Linked DNA regions of Homo sapiens. The protein of the gene in region 1 purifies or fractionates together with the protein of each later gene. This does not show direct contact. Each region holds a gene or a part of one and is shown in the gene's direction. Other genes may lie near its edges. The genes, in order: DDX42, PIN4, ANOS1, PRP4K, RPS6KA4, FOXJ3 and NUSAP1.

Region 1 (4,187 bases):
TTTCCCTCTTAGAAGTCTCCGCTGCACCTGTCAGTTCTCAAATGCACAAGTCCTTGCCAGACCACCCAGCCTCTATGACTCCTGAAGCAAGCAACACAGGACCAAGGAAAATTCACACAAGCGCTAACAAGTCTGGTTTGATTATTTTCTGCAAGCTCATCCAATAGTTCCTCAGCGACTGAGTCTAGACTTGAGGAAAGAGGACTGAGTGAGGCCATCATTCCTTGTTGTCATTTTAGATTAGGTCTTCCTGACAACGGCCAAAACGAGTATTCTGGAAATCATGCAGACTTTCCTCTGTCTCTTTATATGTGTTGGATACAAACACGTTTCATTTTAGAAACCTCCAGAAGAGACTGGCCACAGAGGTTTTTGCTTCTATTAAACCCCTTTGCCTAGTTTCTCCCCACCCAAGAGAATCAATACATCCTAATGTCATCCTCCGGCACACACTGTACATTTCCTCTAACTCTGCCCTTTTGGCTATCATTTGCTCACAGCTCCGTGGGAAAGTTCCCCCAAACCATTACAATTATCTCAACCGGACCGGGCTACAGGCCAAGCAACTCGGAGTCACCGCTCGGCCTGGCCCGGCCACGCCGACGAGCGCGTCCTGGCCCGCTCCTTACCTGTGGCCGAAGCCGAAACCCGGCCCAGCGCCCTGCGTCCGACACCCCTGCCCGGCCTGCCTCTCGGCCTGGCCGCCGCCTCCGCGATCGCAGCGGTTTTACTGCCCCGGATGCCTCTAGGACGCAGCCAGAACCGTAGCTCAGTCACGCCGCGCCTCTCTTCACGTAGCCTCCGCCGTCCGTTACGTAGAATGCGAGCGGCTCGTCAGCGCCTGCGCGCAGCCTGCGGGGCGGGACGCAACCCCGGGGAAAGCGCGAGACCTCCCTCTCTCCCGCCCGGCTGAGGCGAGGTGGGGCTTTTGGGAAAATTACATAATCCCCGCCCCTGGGCCGGAACTGCCCTCGCCTATCCCAATCCTCCTACCTAGGATTCCGTCAAGTTGACGTCACACGGAACCGGTGCTCCGGAAGCTAAAGGTGGCCATGCTGTGTGGGACCACGTGGCCAGAGGCAAGAGTGTCGCTCTAGTAGTATATGCAACAGTTTAAACTATAGGCATGTTCATGTAAATATGGTTTCTGTCCAACCCGTTTTCTCTTGGGATTTTTGGCTAGCCCCTTGACGCCACTTTTTCTTCATTCGCAGACCCACTTTCTAGATGGGTCATGAACACTGTCCACCCAACTGCAGTTTCCCGTCAGAGTATCTGAGGAGCCTGTGAGGCGTTCTGGAGCTTTAAGGTCAGGCGCCTTCCGGGAGCCGTAGCCCCGGCCCCGCCCTTCTGCCCGCGCGTTCCTCACTGCGCATGTCGCGTTTTTGTTCCCCTCCCCCCTTCAGCAACGGGCCGTGAGGCGGTGGCGGTGGTGGCGGTGGCGGCGGCGGTGGTGGTGGTGGCGGCGGCGGCGGCGAAGGGGGCGGAGAGGAAGGAGCGCGGCGGGACCGGGCCGGGACAGCGCGTACTTTGGGCTCCGGGATTCGCTCCGCGCCCGCGGTTGTAGCAGCTGCCGCTGCAGCCATAGCAGCAGGTTTGTGCGTGGGGTTTCTGGACGCAAGGCCGCCAGTCCTTGGGGGCACTGGAGGCAACTGCTGGGCCTAGCGAGGGCGGAGGAACCGCGGCCTCGCTTAACAAAGAGTCGGCAGAGCCTCGGGGCACCGGCGGCCGGGGTGCCGGGAAGGGGTGGGAGTGGGGGCTGAGGCCTCTAGGGTTCCTTCCTAGCCGCGTCGCCCTCCCACAGCTCCCGCTTCCCTCACAAGTCTTACCGAGGCCCAGTTGGCGGCTTTCCGGAGGCGGCGCCCCCTCGCCTAGGAAAAGGATTTGCAGGGTGCCCGGCTCCAGGGCAGGAATAGCGCGGGGAGAATTCTGACCCAAGGAGGCAGCGCTTGGGAGATGCAGGCCTCCGAATTTGGGGTCCTGAGAGGCAAAAGCTGCCAAATGAGAGGAGTGAAAAGATATAGGCGATGATCTTTGTGCAGCGTTGAGTAGGTCGATTATTAGCATCACTGTAGTCACACAAACTTTTTTGCGGCCTACTTGAGAGCGTATCTGATGTGAATAAATAATTTACATGGAATTGCAAACATATGCATCAAAAACAGGAGAAGCTGTCGAGAGTTTTGGGGAATTACATTCTCATCACTGAGAATTTCCCTCTTGCCCCCACTCCTATAGGCAGTTATCCAATTTCTTGTGGCTTCCCTGTGTTTTCTTTTTGTCAATGATGTTTCTATGTCTGTCCTCTCTCGTATACACACCCAGGACTTCCTCAAGCGCAGGGACTATGTCTTAAGGCGCTTTGCAGAGCCAAGCTCATTTCTGGCACATAAGAGGTGAGCAATGAGTGTTTCGTACAAAAATTAATGTTTATATTTTGACAGCTGGGAAAAGAAAATATATCTTCCTGTACCTGGAAGAAGCATTGTGTAGCCTAATGTGCAATTCGTTCATTCAAGGGGTATTTTTATTGGTGCCTATTCTCTAGCGCCGTTCTAGGTGATAGGGATAGGTGTTAGACCCCTGCCTTTGGGGAACTTAACTTTCTAGTAGCGGGAGGAGAGGCAAACAGATACATATATTATACTGAATGTTAGAAGATGATCAGTATCTTAGGGAAAAGAAAGCTGGAAAGGGGGTTGGGGAGGTGGTGGTGTTGGAATTTGCAATAAAGTGGTCAGGGAAGTCCATACAGACAAGCTGATATTTAAGCGGACTAGAAGGTGGAGTGAGAGCCTACGTTTATCTGGGGAAAGGAACGTTCCAAGCTAGAGAATAACAAACATAAAAGCCTTGAGGAGGACAAAGCTGGCCCGTTAAGAGTGTGAAGACCAACGCGTTTGGAGCACTGTGAGCTGAGGGAGTATTAGGAGATAAGGTCAGGGAAGAATTGGGGGAAGGGAGTGAGCGGAACAACCAAAGCCTTTTAGGCTGTTACTTAGGAAGGATCTGAGGGTTTCGATCAGAGGAATGATAATATCTGATTTATATTGTAACAATTTAATATAAGAGAGGAGTGCAGTTATTTAAATTTGTTTTGTTACATTGATAGTCATATAATCAGCTCTTAGTTGCTTTAAGCTGACAGGAGAAGGGATGCTTCTAAAATAACCATAACCTAGCATTTACTTGTATTTGGTTTAGAAGAATGTGATTACGTTCTTGAGTTTTTATTTAGATTCTCATCAAAGAACTGACCTGTATATAGTGTGTGAGGTACTCTCAAAGTATATGTAGAGTAGATGCTAATCACTGTCACTAGAACTCTTCCTTCCACCTCCAAAAATACAAGTGATAAAGTAATGTGGCTTATATAATCAGTTGTTTTTAGTCCACTATATTTAAAGTCATTTAGATCATATCTTATTTTCCGCCATTGCCGAAAACACAAACTAGCTAAATTGTCTTCCTTTATAAGTGTGTTCCACATTTATTCTCACTTCCTAGCCTTTGCTAGTTCAGTCTTTCTCCCTGGAATGTCTTCGTCTGCACGTCTCTACCCAGCTTTCATCTTTCTGTGCCTAGCCTGGCTTCTGACTCTGTTATGACACTTGCCCTTGCTTGTTAGCTCATGGTGATCTCTGACATCTTCAGTGTTCTTGTGGCGCTTATGTATGAAATACCTGAGTTGAAAGAAGTCTGATAGTCTCAATTTACCGATGAAGAAATTGGTTCTTCAGAAATAATGTAATAATGAAAAACACGATGGTAGCTGACATATTGAACAAGTACATTTTTGTGTATGAACTTAATTTTTCACGCCAACTCTTGAGATAGGTGATAGTCTCATCTTTTTTTTTTTTTTTTGAGATGGTGTCTGGCTGTGTTGCCCAGGCTGGTCTTGAACTCCTGAGCTCAAGTAATCCGCCTGCCTCAGCCTCCCAGAGTGCTGGGATTACAGGCGTGAGCCACCACACACAGCCTCTTACCATTTTTTATAGATGAGGAAACTGAACCCAGAGAAGCTAAATAACTTCCCTGAGGTTCATATCAAGTTAGTAGCAAAGATAGTTTACACATAGCCTGTGCTACTTTACTATTCTGTTAAGATTTCCTAGGAAACCACCGTGTTTTATTTATTTTTTAGAGACTGTCTTGCTGTGTTGCCCAGGTTGGAGTGCAGTGGT
Region 2 (4,039 bases), on another chromosome or scaffold:
TGTGGGCACAAATTCAAAAATCATTTATCTTAGGCAAACATTATTAATATGAGCAAGCCATCATTTTATGTGCTTTACAGATATGAACTTGTTTAATTCTCTTAACACCTGATAGGATAATAGTAGGTACTATTATCATCAACTCCATTTCACAGATGATGAAACTGAGCCAAAGAGAGGTGAAGTAACTTCCTCAAGGTCATGGAGCTAGTAGACAGATGTGGAGCAGGGATTTGAAACTGGGCAATCTGGCTCCAGAATCCATGCTTTTACTACACTATGCTGCACCATTATGGAAATTTTGGAAAATACACAGAAACAAACACGATGACCTGTATGCACTAGCACCACTGGCCACATCTTGCTCTATAGCTTTCCTCTCCTTTATATTCATATAACATACAATACATTACATATACTTCTTTTACAAGGAATCATATTCTTTATCTTGGTCTTAAAAACATTTCCCCTATCTGTACACACAGCCTTACAATCGTTATTTTGAATGTTGTATAATATCTTCTTGTGTGGCTAAAACATTATTTAAGCAGTACCCGACTGAGGAGCACTCAGACTGCTTCCAATGTTTCTCCATGACTGAGCTCTGCAAGACGCAAAAAGGTGACAGGCTTTTTTAAAAACTACCTTTTGAACCTAATTAGCTACAACTGCAGAATAAAATTAACAAACGAAAAACTGCCAGGGAGGGCAGCCCTGTGTGTAGGAGGAGACAGCGGAAGTTGGCCGCCACCACAGTACTCCTGCTTCCCTTTGTCTGGCGGCCCCGCGGGATTGGCCAGAGCTGGCGCCGAGGGACTGCAGAGCCACCCACCCCCGTGGCTCCTACTGCGCACGCGTGAAAAAAGCCAGGTTGAGGGGAACGGGGGAGCTTCGGGCGTAGAGTGTGGGGAGTGGGGGATCTGGTGCAAATTAGGGTGCGTGAAAGAAGTCACAAAAAGCGCAGAGGCCAGGCTTCCCGCCCTAATCCGGCCTTTGTCTCCGCCCCTCTGCCTTTGTTTCGGCCCAAGCGTCTTATTGGTCAGACATCTTCAGCCCCATTGGTCCAAGAGCCAAAGGACGGGGTCTGCCCCAAGCTGTGCCTGCTTCCGGAGCCGCAATAAGAACGGTCAATTGAGATGCGGCTTTCAGGCATTTGTTTAGGACATGCCCATGGCGGGGCTTCTAAAGGGGCTTGTACGGCAACTGGAGCGGTTCAGCGTTCAACAACAAGCTTCCAAGATGCCGCCCAAAGGAAAAAGTGGTTCTGGAAAAGCGGGGAAAGGTAGAGCGGCCAGAGCGATCAAGGAGAATGGGGGCGGGTGAGGAGCGAAGGGAGGGAACAGACAGTCCATCTCCGGAGTCCGGGACGGACGCAGCAGGTAGCCAGTGGCCCCACAGTGCTGCCATCGATTACATCTGTAGGAATACATTGGGCTACGGTTCAGGGACCGTCCTAGTGGGTAATGGAATCTGATGGGGATAGTTCCTCGGAGGCGATGACTTAGGGCTGCTATTTCAAGGGGTTATTAGAGCTCTAAAATTGGGTCTTATCAAAAGCCAGCAATAGGAAGTACACATTGGTTATGGTCCTTAAAGTTCACTTTAATGCTTACAGAATGACATGCCCACCATCGGGGAAGGAATCATTCATCCATTGAACAGAAATGTGTCAGGCAGAGTGCTAAGCGCTGAGGATACACAAATAAGACAGAAGGCTGGGCGCGGTGGCTCACGCCTATAATCCCAGCACTTTGGGAGGCCGAGGGAGGATGGATCACGAGGTCAGGAGTTCGAGACCAGCTTGGCCAACATGGCGAAACCCCGTCTCTACTAAAAATACAAAAATTCGCCAGGCGTGGTGGTGGTGCGCGCCCGTAATCCCAGCTACTCGGGAGGCTGAGGCAGGAGAATCGCTTGAACTCGGGAGGCAGAGGTTGCAATGAACCGAGATCGCGCCACTGCACTCCAGCCTGGGCGACAGAGCGAGCCTCTGTCTCAAAAAAAAAAAAGAGATTTTGGCCTTAAGGAGCTCCCGAAGTAGTGAGGAAGATAAAGGCTTAGTGATCATAAAGCACTGTACTAAATGTAGTGTTGAGGGATGTGTATGGGATATAATAGAAATTGAGGGAAGTCCTTCATTTAGCTGGGGAACAGGGAACGGAAGACTTCCTGGAGATGAATTAGGCAGGTCAAGATGTGCATTGAGGGTAGGTTAAAGCATTCCTTACTTGGGGTCCAGCAGCAAAAGCACTGAGGTGAGAAACAGCATGATGTGTGCAGCGTAGTGTTGCTGGAGCAAAAACTCAAGGCAGAATGGCAAGTGGTGAGAATGAAAACAGAAACAAAGACGAGATCATGGAGAGTGCTATATATTCTGCTAAGAAGGACAGTTAAGGATCAGAAAGACCTGTAAGGAGATTGTTGTGGTAGTCTTGGTGAGAGATGATGGTGGACTGACCTAAGGGAGTGGCTGTGGGAACTGAGAAAAGAGAAAAGATTCTGTAAATATTAGGATGTGAAATAGTCAAGACTTGGTGATTTATTGGGTTGGGGAGGGGTGGTGAGGGAGGATCAACGATCATTCTGTTTTCTGGATTGGATTTCTAACCTGTTGCTGGTCCTGCAGGGTAACATCAAGGATACATGAGGAGCGGGGATGAGATTGATGAATTCACTTTCAGATAGATTGGCTTTGAGGTGTCTGTGGGACATCTCAGTGGAGATGTAGTCAGGAAGTGGTTGGATATTTGAGTCTAAAGTTTGAGGGAGAGGTCTAGACTGTACATGTAAGTTTTAGGAGTCGCTAACTTATAGATGGTAGTTGAGCCCATTAGAGTGTATGCAATTATCCATGGAGAGTTTATAGAATGAAAAGAGCAGAGAGCAGAGGATGTGATCCTAGGACAGGCAGAGAAAGAGGCAGACAGATAGAGGGAGTGCAGAATGGTGGCCAGAGGCTGGAGAGACCAGAATGTTTTAAAGAGAGAGGGTATAGTCTATCAAGAACAGCAGATTTGGAAATTAGAGGTGGCCTTGGGTAAAAGTGGTTTCAGTGAAACAGAAGCCAGATTACCGTGACTAGAGAACTGACTGGGAAGTGGTAATTTGGACTTCTTGGAAAGTTTTAATTGAAAAGCATGGAAATGGGATGGTAGATAGAGAAGGACAGAGGATTAAGAGAAAGTTTTATTTTCTTTGCTTCTTTGGAATGGGGAAAACTTGGGAGTGAAGCTGAAGGATCCAGTAAAGTAAAAGAGGTAAAGGTACAGAAGAGTGAGATTTAGGAGAAAATGGAATCCAGGACCTAGGGGGAGCAGGGACACCTTATGCTTGAGGTCATAGGAAAGGAGATGGAGGGGCAGGGACTCAGTAGGCATCTTGAGGAGAGTGGTAAAGGTCTGGAATATCGTAATGGAAGAGGGAATGAAACACAAAAGAAGTGCCTTCAGGGCTAGGAGCCTGACTAAGATCAAAGGCCATGAATTTGTAGACTACATAATCTTCACAGTCTGATTTACCTAGTACTATGCAATTGGCACAATATAGGATTGAAAAGAGCTAGGTGCAGCCTTAAGCCATGGTTGAGGTTTTGTTAGGCAGTTATGATAGGAGGATAGCAACACCAGGGAATTACAAGGGCCAGTGGGAATGCAGTTCAGATGAAGGAACATGGGGTCCAGAGTGGGAAGGGAAAAAGAAGTCTGGTGGCCTAGGTGAATGTAGCAGGACGAAGGGACTGGGGTCAAGGGAGAGGTTCTGTGAAGTTAAAGAGCAAGTATTGTGGGAATGAGACATGAGGAAGCTGGAAGAACAGGAGGTTATAGCCAGAGACTGAACTAGTTCTGAGTGGCACAGTTCCATCGTGTGCCCCCGGGGCAGGTAGCTTGGAGTAGAGAGCATGACATTCGGGAAAGAGACCTAGAACTGAGATTCCCCAAGATAGATGGTGAGGTCACTCAAGGTAATGGCAGGAGTGAGGGTGGAGAGGAAGCCCAAAGCTGATGCCAGAGTCGTCAGGAAATCAAAGGCAGTGAGGTGG
Region 3 (3,500 bases), on another chromosome or scaffold:
CTGTCAGGCCTTGCCTCAGGAGAGCGCAACCTATGCACTCATGGTGTAGGCAGTGACACAGATTCCCTGGGGCAGTGACCTGCTGTCGTCGGCCTGCAGAGGAAGCTGTCGTCTCATAGTCTGTGCCCCAGTTGTCCCCACTGTCCTCCACTGCCCAGCCCTTCAGCAACAAGACAGAAAAGCAGTGGGTAGATGTGCACACCTGACACCTCCAGGTCTGCAGGCTGTTTCTGCCCCACCTGCACAAAGTGGCTGTCAACCACGCCCAAAAACACAAGGGACTCAGTACTGAGGCATGGGGGTGGGAATGCAGACCAGGGATACCTGAGTAATCCAACACTGCTCTGACCTGGAAAGGAAGAAAGGAAGATGGGATGGAAACCCCATCATTTCACTACTGAATGCTGCCCTTCATTCACGAAAAGAAACAGTGCATGTTAGCACCTCCTGAAATATTAGTATCTGGCTCCAGGATGCTTTGTCCAGGTCATTTGGCATGGAGCTATTTCAGGCTCACAAGTAGAATACATATGTGCGGTTAGCAGAGTGAAGAGGAGCTGTGGGTCTGTGAGGTATGGAACAGGGAAGTGGGCTTTGGGGCTGTGCAGACCTGCTCTACACCCAGGCTCTGTAGCGTCGCGAATGGGTAGCTTGGGTGCATCACATCACCTTCCTGAATGTTAACCCTTCATATGCCCAGTGGGGGAGAGAAGCACCTGCCCTGCAAGATGCAATCAGGATGCAAAACATGTTGGGGTGATGCAGGTGATGGTAATACAGCAGCTAGCACTACCCGGAAGATTACTAAGGAGCAGCCACTCTTCTGGGTATTTTACAAGTACTACTCTTTTAATCCCCACAACACTCCTAGGAGGCAGCTACTAAATTAGGGAAGAACTCAGAGGTCTTGAAAAGTTGGCTCATCACACAGTTCATTGACGATTTAGCCGGGTTAATAGTGAGGATGGCTTCTAGCTTTTGGTTTTGTTTCTATTTTTAAGATTTTGTTGGTTAGCTGGATAATTTACTTCAGGACTGACTACCTAATTTTCAGGCCCTGGTGCAAAATAAAAACGTGGGGCCTCTTAGCAAGAAAAAAAGTGTTTGTTAAAGGAAATAAGATATAAAACGTTTTCCTTTCTTCTGCCACTTGCTTCTGTTAACTTGTCATGGTGTTTTAAATTTCCTATCCATGTTGTTCTCAGTGAAGAAAATTTTAAAGTTTAATTTTAGCATGACGCTAACTCTTCTTCTTTATATTGTGCAATGCCAGCTTTACATGTAAATATCAGAGCACTTAATTCCTGGAGGGAGCCCTGAAATGGCCAGAGGGTCCAACAGGCCAGACTCGGGAATGGTGGAAGGAGGAAGAGAAGGCTCCCCCAAGGCTTTGGGGTGTGCCCAGGGAACACTCATGTCTCACAGGCACCTAGGGCCTTGGGCTCAGACACATGTGCTCAGGCATGATGCTGGCCAGGTCCCCTCTTTTGCCTGCTGCTGCACCCGGGGATTGTACTCTTGCCTGGCACAGGTCCTCTGGAAATTGAGCCAGGTGCCTCCCCTTCATAGGCCAGCTGCTCCTGCCCCCAGCAGATGGGCAGCTCCCAGGTTTATTGCATCCTCCTCAGTGGATGTGCCATTCCAGTGTCTCAGAATCGTGCTGGCCACCCACCAAACACACCATCATGCTACTAGCATGGAATGGGGACAGACACAACCATACCATGGGACACTGTATGACATGCATATGGCCAACCCTGATCTTCCCTACACCCATGCCCGGTCCCTGCAGGGACCATAGTGGGCAGGGATCATGTGATGGGAGGTGGGGAGCAGAAGGCCAGTGGGGCCTGAGGTGCCAGGTGATGGGGGAATGGGCGGTGAGAACCTGTCCTGGAGAGGTGAGGGTGCGGTGGGAGTCAGGATTGGTTCTGAGCTGACATGTCCACTCTCCAGTGAGTACTGCAGTGTGCTATTGACTCTTACATACAAAACTCAAACTCAAAGAATTTCAGCATGGCCATTGCAGAGCATACCCCAAGCCTAGGTCCTCTTGTGAGCATATAGTGGACTGCACTGTTCATACGTCTGTGAAACTGACCTAATTTGCTTTGTTTGTATGTCAAAGATTCAGCCATCTGGGAAAGTTTAAACCTACTTTGGAGTGGCGGTTCCTCATAGGGTCACCTGTAATGTTAAAGGGTACGATGCTGACATATGCTCACTTAGGGAGAAACATCTCTCCTCTTATGTTCTCAACTTCTCTAGAAGATTAAAGAAGAAGGAAAGGAGGGAGGTGGTGCCTGAGATAAGCCCTGTCTCTTTATAGGTGACTCTTGATGCATTTGAGAGTGACTTCATGCCCTATGCTTCATCTTGGACACTCCTGCTCCTCTGACCTCCTCTGGGTCTGCCCATGATGGCACAGGTGTAGCTGAGTCTTAAGCTCTAAACATAATCAGTTCCCTAAGCATGGGCAGGCTTGGGACCTGCCATTGGCAATCTCAGCATTGGCAGGCCTGGGACCTGCTCTTTGTCTGCCTGTGTTTTCTCAATGGAGGCTCAAAACAGTAGGGTTTGAGGAAAAGTAGTAGTCCGTGGGCAAGTGAGGCGGGATGTGTGTGTATGTGTGTCTGTGTCTTTGCCAGATTTCAGAATGCCCAGGGAGAAAGTGGATGGGATCCTGCTGGAAGACTAATAGCAGGTTGCTGGCAGCTTGGCCCTAGGGTTCCAGAATTGTACTGATGTTAAGAGATTCTTCCTTAATGGGACGTTATTCGCCCTATAAAGTACCACCGATAGGCTCCCTTTGGTAGCTGATTAGAGATCAGAGGCTCTTCCTAGCAGTAATTGGAAGCTGTTTGTTTTGGCAAAAAGGAGAATGAAGCTGGTGATGAGATCATTCCACTTAGAGGGCCAGCCTCTCCTCCAAGGCAAAGTAAACAAACAATTAGCGCATCAAAACCCCAGCAGCTACAAATCAGCCCCAGGCTCACAGATTTCAGAGGAATGGATTTTGTGGTGCTCATACCCAGCCTACGATGTGTCCCTTTGCTCTGTGCTGAGTTTTCAGTTATATTGCAGGATGGCCAGGCATTTAGAGAGCCGCTGGGAGAACCACGACTCGATGCAGTTTGGTCTTGGTGTTTCCTGGTCTGAGTTATTGGCTCTCTGGCTGCGTTTCTAACACGTTCTGAATTTGACCCAAAAGAAACCTTATACTATTCATTGCAATTTTTTGTGTTTTTAATATGGTATTTCTCTTTGAACATGATTTAAAACTCTACCTTATTGTGACTGTAATAGAACATTTAAAAAACAATAGAAAATACACTTACTAACTTGTTTATTTCTTTATGCAGTATATCAAATATATATATCTGTATATATATATATCTGTATATATATATCTGTATATATATATATCTGTATATATATATCTGTATATATATATATCTGTATATATATATCTGTATATATATATATCTGTATATATATCT
Region 4 (3,500 bases), on another chromosome or scaffold:
CTCCAGAGACTGCTTAACCACTCAGCTGTCCTTTGTCTTGAGGACAGTCTTGAGTTAAAACTCAAAACTTTAGGTAATTTTGAATTTGAGCTTAGTGACTAGAATTTTGTACTTTGGGCACTTAGATTTTATACGCCTAAAGATCATTCTCAATCTTTAAAGACTCTCCTACCTTCATAACTTGAATTAGCCTAAATTTTTCTCAGACTTTTCCCCCTATAAGTCAAGGTTCAGGAAAAAAAAGACCTTCTGGATTATGGGATGGGAGATTTCTGGGGACAAAGGATGAGAATATAGCCTATATAAAGAACAAAGTTGAAATGTCTTGGAATCTTTTTACTGAAATCTATGTGACTTCTTTCCCTTCCATAATAAAACAATGATGGTGTTTTGTTTTTTGTGTGTGTTTGAGATAGGGTCTTCCTTTGTTGCCCAGGCTGGAGTGCAGTGCATGATCATGACTCACTGCAGCCTTTAACTCCTGGGCTCAAGTGATCCCCTCCTGGGTTCAAGTGATCCTACCTCAGCCTTTTGAGTAACTGGGACTACAAGCACATGCTGCCATACCCAGTTAATTTAAATTTTTTTGTAGAGATAGGATCTCACCATGGTCCCCAGGCTGGCCTTGAACTCCTGGGCTCAAGGAATCCTCCCACTTCAGCCTCCCAAAGTGTGGGCTTACAAGTGTGAACCACTGCACATGGCCTGGTGGTGTTTTTATAATACCAAGATACTGCACTTTTTCCAAGTCTTTGAGAAAAATTAATGATCCAGAGAACACTACTGTATTTGTCATGTGTCTTCTCATACTCCATTAGGGAGAAGTCAACCCAAATTAAAACCTGACTTTCACCAGAGGACGTAGCTTCTTCTGCACATCTCTTAAATACCTTTTCCTGCCAGAAATGGAAGTTGGCAATGTGACATCCAAAAATCAAAGTTCTTTGAGTATGGTACCCTGTAGTGGCTATGTGTTTTTCACTCCCCCTCATTGTTGTCAACTAATTAGTAACTTCTCAGTCATACCGCCATTCTCTCTCCCCCACCCCTTCTCCCAGCAAGTTTATTCAAGACTATGAGACCTGGCTAGACAACGTACTTTTGCAGTTCCTGGGCCTCTGTGACTCCAGTGAACCTTTAATTCTCTCTCAACTACCCACTCCTAGAACCATATATTATCTTGTTATCTCCTGGAATTGGTCTACTTGGAATCTTTTTTTTTTTTTTTTTTTTTAATGAGATGGAGGATTCTCTCTGTTGCCCAGGCTGGAGTGCAGTGGTGTGATCATAGGTCATTGCAGCTGCAAACTCCTGGGCTCAAGTGATCTTCCACCTCAGCCTCCTGAGTAGCTGGGACTACAGGTGTGCACCACCATGCCTGGCTCCACTTGGAATCTTTACCTCAGTGTCTTTCACAACACTGATCGACTTGAAGTTTGCTATATATAACTGCCTTTTGTCACCTTCTTTCTCTATTTGAAATGCCCCTTTTTCCCTTCTTGTTAATTCCTTACTCATTCTCTAGGGCGGTGTTACTCAATTTTTTTTTTTTTTTTTTTTTAAAGACAGGGTCTTGCTCTGTCACCCAGGCTGGAGTGCAGTGGCCCCATCATGGCTCATTGCAGCCTTGACCTCCCAGGCTCAAGTAATCCTTCCACCTCAGCCTCCTGAATAGCTAATTTTTTTTATTTTTAGTAAAGATGAGGTCTCACCTAGCTAATTTTTTTATTTTTAATAAAGATGAGGTCTCACTCTGTTGCCCAGGCTTGTCTCGAACTCCTGGGTTCAAGTGATCCTCCTGCCTTGGCCTTCCATGGTGCTGGGATTACAGATGTGAGCCATTGTGCCTGGGCCAACCTTTATTTTTTAATCCCTGTCCTTTCTCAGTAAACGTTTCTTCTTTCCTCCTAACATCCCTGCTTAACAAATTGGTTTCTTTCTGTGATCTACAAAACAGTGTCCCTGACCGTTCTCGAAATTAGTTTAGGTGATCCTTCAGTGTTCCCATAATGCCCCTATTTGTGTCTTCATCATTGCACTTCTCCAGTATTTTATGGTTATGTCATGTGACTTAGTTTTCCACCAGACATTAATTTCTTTGAAGGAGGCAGATACTGGTTTTGTAATCTGTTTTCTTTCTTTTTTTTTTTTTTTTGGTTTTGAGACTGCGTCACACTGTGTCACCCAGGCTGGAGTGCAATGGCGCAATCTTGGCTCACTGCAGCCTCCGCCTCCCAGGTTCAAGAGATTCTCCTGCCTCAGCCTCCCGAGTAACTGGGATTATAGGCATGTGCCGCTACATCTGGCTAATTTTTGTATTTTTAGTAGAGAGGGGGTTTCCCCATGTTAGTCAGGCTGGTCTTGAACTCCTGACCTCAGGTGATCTGCCCACCTTGGCCTCCCAAAGTGCTGGGATTACAGACGTGAGCCACCATGCCTGGCTTGTACATCTGTTTTCCTGCCGCGTGGCTTAATGCTTACCCATGGTTGGTGAGTTTTTTTTAAATGTTAAAGAGATTGTGAGTAGACAGATGAATTCTTAGGTTGCAAGGATAAACTTACTAAAAGTATAGGAGTATATAATATGAAGACCTGACAAAATAATCCATAGCTTCCTCCAAAAATAGTATGATGGCCTGAATCTAGATAATTTAAGGCCACTTTTGGTCTGATATTCTAGGATGATGGTTTATTATGGAGTAACTTTTAAAGAGAAAGTTAAATAGTGCTTTTGAACCAGTATTTAACTTGGGATTCTTAAACACCAAGGGCTCGACAACGTAATTTAGAATCATAAACTTTTTAACTCAGCATAAGCCAAACATTTAAGCACAGAATCCCCCACTTTATTTATTTATTTCCATAGCATCTGTTAATGTAAATGTATTTTGGGAAACTGAGTTCTCATTTGAAATTCAGAGAGATTAAATCACTTGCTGAATGAATATTGGGCTGTACTGTATTAAATTACTGATATTAGACTTGTTGACTTACAAAAGGCCCTTCCATGTGGTTCAGCCTAATGTCGTATGATTGCTTACTACAAGCCTAGAGTCCTAACTTCCGGTTTAGTTCACTTTGAAGATTCAACTTGTGAGGATGTGTTTATACTATCACCATCATCAGTATCAGCTACCAATGCACATTGATTGAGTGCTTATTTTGGGTATAGCTCAGTATTGGCTCTAGAGTTTTGTTTTGTTTTGCTTTGTTTTTAAGGTATAAGATGAAATCTGCTCAAAACAAGTGACCTGCTGGGTTTACTGTAGAGACACCAAGTTTCATGAATTTCAAGTGGAGAAGGAGATTAGTCTTCCAGTGTATGTTAATAGTTAGTAGGTCTTATTAAAAAAGAAAACGGGCCCTTTGGTTGTTAATGTGTGAGAAATGTTGGTTTAAAAATTAAGTTACTGAGTGGCTTCTTGTACTAAATCAATGTTAATGAGGTTTTGCTGTGCCTGGTTTGCTTTTCCCTTTTTCTCTAACCTGTACTTTTTAAG
Region 5 (3,500 bases), on another chromosome or scaffold:
TTCATGGTTTATCTTTAAACCTTCTGTTAATTTCCCTTCTATTCCATCATCTCTTTATTGTTATGTAAAAATATTGTTTGAAATTATTCACTTGCGGCTGGGTGTGGTGGCTCACACCTGTAATCCCAGCACTTTGGGAGGCTGAGGCAGGTGGATCACTTGAGGTCAGGAGTTCGAGACCAGCCTGGCCAACATGGGGAAACCCCGTCTCTACTAAAAATACAAAAATTAGCTGGATGTGGTGGTATGCGCCTGTAATCCCAGCTACTCGGGAGGCTGAGGTGAGAGAATCCCTTGAACCTGGGAGGCGGAGGTTGCGGTGAGCAGAGATCACACCATTGCATTCCAGGTTGGGCGACTGAGTGAAACTCCGTCTCAAAAAAAAAAAAAAAGAGATCTTCACTTTCTCACGTGGACACCTAGGAGGAGATGCATGTTGATATTGTGGCTTTGCATGCCCTTGGCATAGCATGGTACACTCCTGGAGGGTCAGGTCCCCTCCACCGAATTTTTTTTTTTTTTTTTTTTGAGACGGAGTCTCACTCTGTCTCCAGGCTGGAGTGCAGTGGCTAGATCTTGGCTCACTGAAATCTCTGCCTCACGGGTTCAAGCAATTCTCCTGCCTTAGCCTCCTGAGTAGTTGGGACTACAGGCGTGCGCCACCACACCCAGCTAATTTTTGTATTTTCAGTAGAGATGGGGTTTCACCATGTTGGCCTGGATGGTCTCAATCTCTTGACCTTGTGGTCCGCCCACCTCGGCCTCCCAAAGTGCTGGGATTAGAGGCATGAGCCACCATGCCAAGCCCCCTCTACTGAATTTTAGAAGCTTACACCTTTTGGACAAGTCCAAACTCCCTTTGCTTGGGCATTGAGGCCCTTCATGATGTGGTCCTTGCTTAGAACCTTAGCCTCAGTTCTCATCATTTTCCTACTTGATGCTCTGGAGGGCATGATCGAACTGCTCAGAGGTTCCAGAATATACCTCTGTGCCTTTGCACTTGCTGCTCCTGCTACCTGGAGTACATTCTCTACAGCAGTCTACATGGCAAGCTTCTACCCCTCTTTTAGGCCTCCTTGTCTGCTCACCTGGCCCAGGGGGTCACCCTTTCTTTGTGCTGCAGTCCTCTGTGGACAGCATCTCCTTCTGTGCAGTTTATCATGTTGCCATAATGATATTATATCATTATCACTAAATAAACCAGTATGGTTTGTTTAATAGACAGACCAAGTATGGCTGGATAAGTCCCTTCTCTGAAGCTCTTAGAATTGACAACTCTGTGCTTGAATGTCCACATTCCATTCCATTGTCTCACAGCCCTCATGATAAAGTTCTTTCTCTTGAATTGGTAGGTACTTTCATTCATTCATTTAATGATTCAAAAATGTGTAGTGAGTGCCTAAAATATTCCAGGTACGGATCTGGGTACTACATTTTTAGGAGAAGATGACACATAGTTTATTTTTAAAATTATTTTTTAAAATTAATTAATTAATGTTTTAGAGACAGGATCTTGTTCTGTGGCCCAGGCTGGAGTGCAGTTGGGCAACCATGGCTCACTGCAATCTTGAACTCCTGGGCTTGAGTGATCCTCCCACCTCAGCCTGCCCAATAGCTAGGACTACAGGCAAGTGCCACCACTCCCAGATAATTAATTTTTTTTTTTGAGACGCAGTTTCGCTCTTGTTGCCCAGGCTAGAGTGCAATGGCATGATATCGGCTCACCGCAACCTCTGCCTCCCGGGTTCAAGCGATTCTCGTGCCTCAGCCTCCCGAGTAGCTGGGATTACAGGCATGTGCCACCACGCCTGGCTAATTTTTGTATTATTAGTAGAGATGGGGTTTCTCCATGTTGGTCAGGCTGGTCTCAAACTCCTGACCTCAGGTGATCTACCTGCCTCAGCCTCCCAAAGTACTGGGATTACAGGCGCAAGCCACCGTGCCTGGCCACAACACGCAATTAAAATGACCCTTAAAAGCTCCTCAAATTGCCAGGACATGGATCTTTAGGAAAAGCAAAGAATTAACTCTGCCTTCTTTTTGCATTTCTTCAGTAGCTCCCCTTGCAGAAGAAGCCAAAGTCCGGCTTGAAAGGGAGGAATAAGTTTTTTTTCCTCAGCGGATAGAGTTGGATTCTCATAAGCTAAGCGTGAACTCAGGCCACACTTTCAATATATTCATTGGTCCTTTCAGTGCCTTCAGCCCTTGGCACCTGGGGAGGAATAAGTGGTCACTCTGATGAGAAAGTTGGGGTCACAGGCTGGTGGGGACAGACATGGCCCCAAGTGATTATAAAACCAGGTGGAATAAAAAGTGTCCACACATCCTGTGTGTACCAGAATGCAACTGGAACACCCCCCACTGCCCCCTTGTCCAGGGTCTTGCCTTTGCCTGGTTCCCCACCAGAGTCTCCTCACCCGCACCCCCAACCCCCATGCCCATGCCCATTCCCCGGACTCCCGCCCTGCAGGGATACTCCTTTGTGGCACCCTCCATTCTCTTTGACCACAACAACGCGGTGATGACCGATGGGCTGGAAGCGCCTGGTGCTGGAGACCGGCCAGGTCGGGCAGCGGTGGCCAGGAGCGCTATGATGCAGGTGGGCTGGGCTGGGCTGGGTTGGGGGGAAATTGGTTTTAGGAGAGGCCTAGGCCCGGGGACTCTAGGCCTAGATCCAACTGGCGCCCGCAGCGTGAGCTCAGCAAGGTCCTAAGCCTCTCCGACATGGGGCGTGGCGGGGCCGCGGGGCTACCAGGTGGGACCTCTGACGCGCCGCCTTCGCCTTCGCCTTCGCCTTCGCCTCCAGGACTCGCCCTTCTTCCAGCAGTACGAGCTGGACCTGCGGGAGCCTGCGCTGGGCCAGGGCAGCTTTTCTGTGTGTCGCCGCTGCCGCCAGCGCCAGAGCGGCCAGGAGTTCGCAGTCAAGATCCTCAGTCGCAGGTGGGAGGGCCCAGGCGCGGGCAGGGGTGGGGGTGGCAGAGCGCTGTCCCGGGGGCGGGGCCGAAGCGCGGCGACCGTAACTCCTTCTGCTCCGTCCCCCAGGCTGGAGGCGAACACGCAGCGCGAAGTGGCTGCCCTGCGCCTGTGCCAGTCACACCCCAACGTGGTGAATCTGCACGAGGTGCATCACGACCAGGTGATGGCTTCCGGCCAGGGGAGGGCGGAGAGAAAAGGGGCAGGCGGCGGGGCTTGGGGGCACTATGGGCGGGATCTAGGGGTGAATTGGGCGGGGCCTAGCGTTTGATTCGGGGCCCAAAGGGACCAGGGAGGCGCAGGGAGTGGAATTTGAGGGGAGTAGGGCCTGAGGACGGGAAGGCGGAGCTGAGGATGGACAAGAAAAGGGACTTTGGCCGGGCGCGATGGCTCACGCCTGTGATCCCAGCACTTTGGGAGGTCGAGGTGGGCGGATCACTTGAAGTCGGGAGTTCGAGACCAGCCTGGGAACATGGCGAAACCCCGTCTCTACGAAAAATACAAAAATTAGCCGGACGCGGTGGCGT
Region 6 (3,500 bases), on another chromosome or scaffold:
AGAACTGCAGACAAATTCTTCTCTGTGCTTTGCTTTCTCCCACAGGTAACAGTATATGCTTTTCATCTTACTCCCATATTCTCATTTTTCTTTGTTATTCTGGTAGAATGGTTTCTTTTCCTGTATAAAGCTGCCTGTCAGTCTGTGCTCTGAGTCATACTTTTTTCTGTCTTACGAAAGACTTCAAACCTATGAGTACCCTTACTTTCTGCTACTTAGTACTCTCACCTCTTTAACTTTTGAACTTGTTACAGTCTCACTTGTTTGGGGAGGAGCACACGCATACCTTCATTGGATAGTTACTATTTCAGTCATGAAAGTTTCTTCTTTCAAGGAGATCAGAATCTCCTGGGGGAGAGGTAGATAAAGATAATCACAGTTACATATAAATTCTGTGATAGGTGTATTTATACTCTGCTTTAGGAATAATAGCTCCTTTAGCTTAGGAGATGGAGGATGGAAAGAGGGGATTGACCAGGCTTTCTGTAGCGGGAGATGTTTGGTCTTGAAGTAGAAGCCAGCCAGGCAGACAGAGAAGGAAAGGACATTCCAGAACAGAAGGCCCTTATTCCTTATCCAGTTACTATGTTATTTTTCAGATAATTTGTACCTGGCACGGTATTGGATAGCATCAGAAGTACTAATGTATGGTCACTGTCCTCAGTGGTTGGGGGAGAGGAGGTGAGGGTAGAAAGCTTAAGCATATGATTCAACTATGCATGTGAAACAACATGTCAGTTGCCAAACTGAGGTTGTAATTGCTCTAGGAATTTAGAGAAGGATTAATAAAAGATTAGTAAAAGCTAAAGTAGTTGAAAATGAGGAATTTAGATGTAGTATAGTAGGAGTTAGGGAGCCATTGAAAGTGTTTAGGCATAATGACATGAAAGCAGTGTTGATAGGTTTCTCTTGGAGTGTATGCATGGACTGGATATGATTAGTAGGGAGGAGTGGTTGAGACATCAGAGTCCAGGAAGCCAGCTAGGAAGCTTTTGGAATGAGGTGAGGTAATGAGGGCCTGACATTTCTTAACCAGATTTCCATAACCAGATTTCTCCCAGCCTCCCATGCTGTTTTTAAATTTACCACCATCTGTTCTCGTATACAAGTGGACTTCTGTCATCACCATTCCACTAATAAGTTTGTTTGTTTCTTTTTTTTTTTTTTCTCCTTTTTTGAGACTGAGTCTCGCTCTGTTGCCCAGGCTGGATTGCAGTGGTGCAACCTCGGCTCACTGCAACCTTCATCTCCTGGGTTCAAGTGATTCTCCTGCCTCAGCCTCCCAAGTAGCTGGGATTACAGGGATGTGCCACCACATCCAGCTAATTTTTGTATTTTTAGTAGAGACGGGGTTTCACCATGTTGGTCAGACTGGTCTCAAACTCCAGACCTCAGGTGATCCGCCTGCCTCGGCCTCCCAAAGTGTTGGGATTACAGGCATGAGCCACCGCACCCGCCCTAATGAGTTTGTGTCTAAAGTTACTGGTGATCTGGCCAAACCTAATGGTCATCTTTTGTGCTCTCCACGCTTGATGGAGAACCACAGTAGCCACCAGCCTAAGTATCAACAGTGGGGACACTTTTTGCTTCACTACCAAGAATGCTGTATATAAAATTTAAGAAATTGCAAACAGAACAGAAGCCCCACTTTTTTAGAGTTTAAATTTGAGATGTTTTTATAGTGTACTTAAAATTTGCTCTTGTGGAACTGATGAATATAAGCACAGTGGAATAATTTTTACACATGATGGCTTTGAAGACTAGGGTCCTTTTTCTTTCCAGTCTATTTAAATCTTCACTTAGCTGAAGTTCTTCAGCTAAGTCAATCTTCACTTAGCTGAAGACTTGCTAAGTTCTTCCTTCTTTACCCTCAAGGCTTTAGTCCATGTTGTTTATTCCTTTTCCTGAACCTTCATAGCACCCACAGCTCAGCTGTGTACTTTTATTCAGTTCTTTGTTGTGTCTGAACTTCTTTATTGGATTATAAGTTCCTGGAGGACAGGTATGTGTGTATTTTTATTTTATTTTATTTTTTACTGTAACATAGCTCTTTACACATGTATAATTTATGCATCCTTGTTAAATATATAACACATAGTAAATACCTGTATTACTGAGATTCTTATAAAGTCTCATTACTGGCACTGGTGGAAGGGAGCAGAAGGCAAAGATGGTTCTCAGTAGGGAGCACCTGCAATAACAATTATATTCCAATTTGTAATATGCTTTTGTATGAAAATGCATGTAACTGGCTGCTTTGGGAATTTGAACAAAATAAAGCTCTACTCCATGGAGACTTGATTGAGGTAAATTGGATGACAGCATGGTATAAAATAGCCAATCTTTATTGAATGAAATGTGAATAATAATATAAGCAACTACTCTTATTACCAATACGAGTAGTTAACATTTGTTGAATACTTATTACTTGCCTGGCACTGTTCTGAATACTTTACATCAGTGAGGTGGGAACTATTTAAATTTTTTCATCTTACAGATGAGGTATGTTTAGCAAAACTACCAGATTGGGTATCAGGAGATCTGGGCTCTGGTTTTTGTACTACTGCTAACTACCTGTGTGAAATTGGATGAGCTTTAACTGCAGTTTTTCATTACTGAAGGGATTCATCTCTGATCTCTAGGGTACTTTCTCTACTGTTTTGACATTGTGTGATCTCTAAATTATCCTATCTTCTTATTCTACAAGTCCCTATAACTTCTTGCTGGGAACAGGCATTTCTGGTTGAGATTGTAGAGTAGGATAGTAAGTTTTTTTTTTTTTTTTTTTTTTTTTTTTAAGATCTCTGAAGATGCTATATGGATGAATTTAAAGTTCAGGTTCAGAGGAATGTGTACAATAGAGATGGAGGGAATTTGAGAAAATGAGTAAGGTAAAATTATGGATCAACATACCTGAAAATCAAGAGGACTCAATTTACTGGCAGTGCAGGTAGAATCCTCGTGGTTGTCTTCTGATTTATAATTGCTTTTGCTTAATGTGGTTTACTTTATAGTGCATTGGTGCCCTCCCAAGATACTCCTAGACTAATATTATTAACTAGCACTTACTGAATATTTTTTTGTGCATGTTTTAATACATTTAATTTTCAAAGTAATATTTTGACCATAAGTACTATTGTTGCATTTTACAGATGAGGAAACTGGGAGGTAGAGGTAATTAACATCTTCACAGTTCTACAGCTTATAACTGTTAGAATCAGTACTTAGACTCTGGGTCTTCCTTACCCCAAACTCCCTGTTCTTTATTATTCTCTGTTGCCGCCAAGTTGTTCAGATCCTATACATAATATTCAAGGTTGCTTTTTGTCAGGAGCCATTTGGAATGAAGGGGCTATATGGGATTTTCATAGCTACAAATGTTTTCTTTTGACTTTTAAGTCAAAAGAAACCTTTAAGTTTTTTTTTATTTTGTTGTCCTTTTTTCCTTTATTTTGATATCACTTAGAAGTCTTTTCATTCTTCTCTACTTTATTGTCAGT
Region 7 (3,500 bases), on another chromosome or scaffold:
CACTGCATGCCAGCCTGGGTAATAGAGCCAGAACCTGTCTCAAGAAAAAACACTACCAATTAACTATTGACATCTTATGAATTGTAAAAACACATCCCAATTTCAGAGATGTTAAAATGTAGAAAAAATACTATCAGTCAATCAATCAAATACATTTGTGGCAATTTGCCATATGTAAAGAATGGTAAAGAATGGGCTTATTTCTCTACCACACAAATGAATGACATTCTTTTAGGAACATACAAGACCTGTTCTCACCACTCACCTAGCATAGCAGTCTTCTGCTACCTGTGACTTCCCCTAACCTGGAGGAGGAGGAGGAGGAGGAGGAAGGGGAGCTTTTGGCTTGCCTCTTGGACTATAATGAGGCCTCCACACCTATTCCTCCATCACCATCATTGTCCAAGGCAGGGAGAGCAGAAAAGACAAGAACATATTTTACAAATAATGTTAGTTGATATGTGATTTAATTTAGCATTAGCCTTTTAGGAATATGTCTCTTCTGCAAAAGAGGTTCGTTCCTATGACAATTATTAATTGAGGCCCTTTTCACTGCTTGCTAATAGTCAAGTGGTTTTATTTATAAGCTAGACACAAGTTACTCTTGCCACAGTACTCATGTCTTGTACTCTGCTGTCCTATTTAGGTTTTCAGCTGCTACTAAAGATAATGAGCATAAGCGTTCACTGACCAAGACTCCAGCCAGAAAGTCTGCACATGTGACCGTGTCTGGGGGCACCCCAAAAGGCGAGGCTGTGCTTGGGACACACAAATTAAAGACCATCACGGGGAATTCTGCTGCTGGTAAAAAAAAAAAAAAACAAAAGAAATCTGTTTCATTTTTAAGCCATGTAACTTCCCAAAATGATTAGGTATATCTGTTTTTTTTGTTTGTTTGTTTTTTTCTGAGATGGAGTTTCGCTTTTGTCACCCAGGCTAGAGTGTAATGGCGGGATCTCGGCTCACTGCAACCTCTGCCTCCCAGGTTCAAGCAATTCTCCTGCCTCAGCCTCCTGAGTAGCTGGGACTACAGACACATGCCACCATGCCCGGCTAATTTTGTATTTTTAATAGAGACAGTTTCACCATGTTGGTCAGGCTGGTCTCAAACTCCTGACCTCAGGTGATCCGCCCGCCTCGGCCTACCAAAGTGCTGGGATTACAAGCGTGAGCCACTGCGCCCGGCCTGTATCTGTTTCCTTAAACCCTTTCCATTTCTATAATCAAAAGCAAAAATTTTACCATAGTGTATTTTTAATTGTGTACTAGTGGGGGAAATGCCAGAGACATAAGCAAAAACCAGATATCTGCCTGAGAGCTCCATCTAATCCTAAAATGGTGACCCTCCAGGAAGGGCACTGTGCCCCTTGTGGGACTCAGGGATTCGGAGGATGAGCACAGTATTCGTTGCAGCCTCGGAAAGGTCCTGGAGGACTCTGACACTAACAGGATCCCAGACCACAGACTTCATGTTTCAAGATTCAACCATGTTGACTCGTTTTCACAGTATTTTTCAGTGGTGTGGGTATATGTCAGTTTATCTATTTTACTATTCACGAACATGTGGGTGGTTCCAGCTTCCATTATTATATATGATGTTGCTATGAATACTCTTAAACATGTCTCCTGTACATGTGCAAGAGTTTCCCTAGACCTAGGAGCAGGACAGCTGGATTGGAAAATATGCAGACATTTACTGTCCTGAATGAATTGTACCAATCTGTGCTTCCAGTGGCAGTGTATGGCAGTCCCTTGTTCTACTCCCTGTCAGCATTTGATACTGATACAGTGGGATAGCTTGAACACAGGGTTTTGTGCTTTTTTTTAACTAAGTGGTCTTAGATCCTGATTGCTGTTTCACAGATGTAGGCAAGGGTTCACATTTGGCAATGACCTGTGGCTTCCCCCTATGAAAAGAAAGGATTGGCCGGACGCAGTGGCTCTTGCCTGTAATCCCAGCACTTAGGGAGGCCGAGGTGGGTGGATCACTTGAGGTCAGAATTTCAAGACCAGCCTGGCCAACATGGTGAAACCCCAACTCTACTAAAAATACAAAAATTAGCCGGGCATGGTGGCATGCACCTATCATCCCAACTACTCAAGAGGCTGAGGTAGGAGAATCGCTTGAACCAGGAAGCAGAGGTTGCAGTGAGCCGAGATTGTGCCACTGCACTCCAGCCAGCCTGGGCAACACAGTGAAACCCTGTCTCAAAAAAAAAAAGAGATTGGGAGAGAAAGGATTAACTGATGGCCAACTGTAGCAAAAAGGCTAACTAAACTACACCATCCTTAGGCTGGGCATGGTGGCATGGAGACCAACCTGGCCAACATGGCAAAACCTCGTCTCTACTAAAAATACGAAAATTAGCCGGGCGTGGTGGCACGCGCCTGTAATCCCAGCTACTCACTTGAGAATCACTTGAACCCAGGAGGCAGAGGTTGCACTGAGCTGAGATCACATCACTGTACTCCAGCCTGGGAGACAGAGCAAGACTCCGTCTCAAAAAAATTAAAAAAAACTACACCATCCTGGATATTTTTAACTTCGTGGTGCAAAAATTCATATTCTTTTTTTTTTTTTTTTTTTGAGACGGAGTCTCACTCTATCACCCAGGCTGGAGTGCAGTGGCACCATCTTGGCTCACTGCAACCTCCGCCTCCTGGGTTCACGCCATTCTCCTGCCTCAGCCTCCCGAGTAGCTGGGACTACAAGTGCCCGCCACCACGCCCGGCTAATTTTTGTATTTTTGGTAGAGACAGGGTGTCACCGTATTGGCCAGGTTGGTCTTGAACTCCTGACCTCGTGATCCGCTCACCTCGGCCTGCCAAAGTGCTGGGATTACAGGCATGAGCCACCGCGCCCAGCCAAAAATTAATATTCTGAAGTGATAAGAGCCCTTATTAATAATATTCCTGACTTTAAACAATCCTCCTGCCTCAGCCTCCCAAAGTGCTGAGATTACAGGTGTGAGCCATATCTGTTATCAGGGAAATAAGCTGAAAAGTTACCGTCATTTCCTTCAACAGAATTCTAAACTCCCAGCTGATCCTAGGATCCCAGCACTTTGGGAGGCCAAGGCAGGTGGATCATGAGTTCAGGAGATTGAGACCATCCTGGCTAACACACTGAAACCCCGTCTCTACTAAAAATACAAAAACAAAATATTCAGAACATTTACAAAGCTGCTTAGCAAAGGAAATTAATCTCAATGGTTAGCTTTCCTCAATTATTGTTTTCCCCTTTTCTCCATTTTAACCCTTATTTCAGACTTTCATCTATTTCAGACTATTCATGTAGATTGTCTTAGTCCTTTGCGGCTGCTATTATATAACAAAGCACCAAAGACTGTATCTTATAAACAGCGGTAATTTCTTTCTCATAGTTCTGGAGGCTGGATGAGGGCAGATCAGGGCACTAGCATGATTCTGGTGAGGGCTGTTTTCCAGGTAGCAGACTACCAACTTCTTGTTGTATGCTCATGTGGCAGAAAGAGAGCTAG

The links.
Region 2: the proteins of DDX42 (region 1) and PIN4 fractionate together in Homo sapiens (co-fractionation; one large-scale study listed by BioGRID). This does not show direct contact.
Region 3: the proteins of DDX42 (region 1) and ANOS1 fractionate together in Homo sapiens (co-fractionation; one large-scale study listed by BioGRID). This does not show direct contact.
Region 4: the proteins of DDX42 (region 1) and PRP4K purify together in Homo sapiens (affinity purification with mass spectrometry, with the first as the bait; one large-scale study listed by BioGRID). This does not show direct contact.
Region 5: the proteins of DDX42 (region 1) and RPS6KA4 fractionate together in Homo sapiens (co-fractionation; one large-scale study listed by BioGRID). This does not show direct contact.
Region 6: the proteins of DDX42 (region 1) and FOXJ3 fractionate together in Homo sapiens (co-fractionation; one large-scale study listed by BioGRID). This does not show direct contact.
Region 7: the proteins of DDX42 (region 1) and NUSAP1 purify together in Homo sapiens (affinity purification with mass spectrometry, with the first as the bait; one large-scale study listed by BioGRID). This does not show direct contact.

Annotation. Positions count from the first base shown.
Region 1 is NC_000017.11:63,772,783-63,776,969, forward strand, and holds the start of DDX42 (ATP-dependent RNA helicase DDX42), read left to right. Parts: upstream 1-1,387; 5' UTR 1,388-1,594; intron 1,595-2,325; exon of another isoform or gene 2,326-2,396; intron 2,397-4,187. UniProt on the Homo sapiens protein: ATP-dependent RNA helicase that binds to partially double-stranded RNAs (dsRNAs) in order to unwind RNA secondary structures. Unwinding is promoted in the presence of single-strand binding proteins.
Region 2 is NC_000023.11:72,180,547-72,184,585, forward strand, and holds the start of PIN4 (peptidyl-prolyl cis-trans isomerase NIMA-interacting 4), read left to right. Parts: upstream 1-1,239; coding exon 1,240-1,282; intron 1,283-4,039.
Region 3 is NC_000023.11:8,725,638-8,729,137, reverse strand, and holds part of ANOS1 (anosmin-1 isoform 1 precursor), read left to right. Parts: intron 1-3,500. UniProt on the Homo sapiens protein: Has a dual branch-promoting and guidance activity, which may play an important role in the patterning of mitral and tufted cell collaterals to the olfactory cortex. Chemoattractant for fetal olfactory epithelial cells.
Region 4 is NC_000006.12:4,027,800-4,031,299, forward strand, and holds part of PRP4K (serine/threonine-protein kinase PRP4 homolog), read left to right. Parts: intron 1-3,500. UniProt on the Homo sapiens protein: Serine/threonine kinase involved in spliceosomal assembly as well as mitosis and signaling regulation. Connects chromatin mediated regulation of transcription and pre-mRNA splicing.
Region 5 is NC_000011.10:64,365,662-64,369,161, forward strand, and holds part of RPS6KA4 (ribosomal protein S6 kinase alpha-4), read left to right. Parts: intron 1-2,470; coding exon 2,471-2,599; intron 2,600-2,806; coding exon 2,807-2,940; exon of another isoform or gene 2,941-3,042; coding exon 3,043-3,136; intron 3,137-3,500. UniProt on the Homo sapiens protein: Serine/threonine-protein kinase that is required for the mitogen or stress-induced phosphorylation of the transcription factors CREB1 and ATF1 and for the regulation of the transcription factor RELA, and that contributes to gene activation by histone phosphorylation and functions in the regulation of inflammatory genes.
Region 6 is NC_000001.11:42,279,736-42,283,235, reverse strand, and holds part of FOXJ3 (forkhead box protein J3), read left to right. Parts: intron 1-2,798; exon of another isoform or gene 2,799-2,882; coding exon of another isoform or gene 2,883-2,950; intron 2,951-3,500.
Region 7 is NC_000015.10:41,370,881-41,374,380, forward strand, and holds part of NUSAP1 (nucleolar and spindle-associated protein 1), read left to right. Parts: intron 1-646; coding exon 647-804; intron 805-3,500. UniProt on the Homo sapiens protein: Microtubule-associated protein with the capacity to bundle and stabilize microtubules. May associate with chromosomes and promote the organization of mitotic spindle microtubules around them.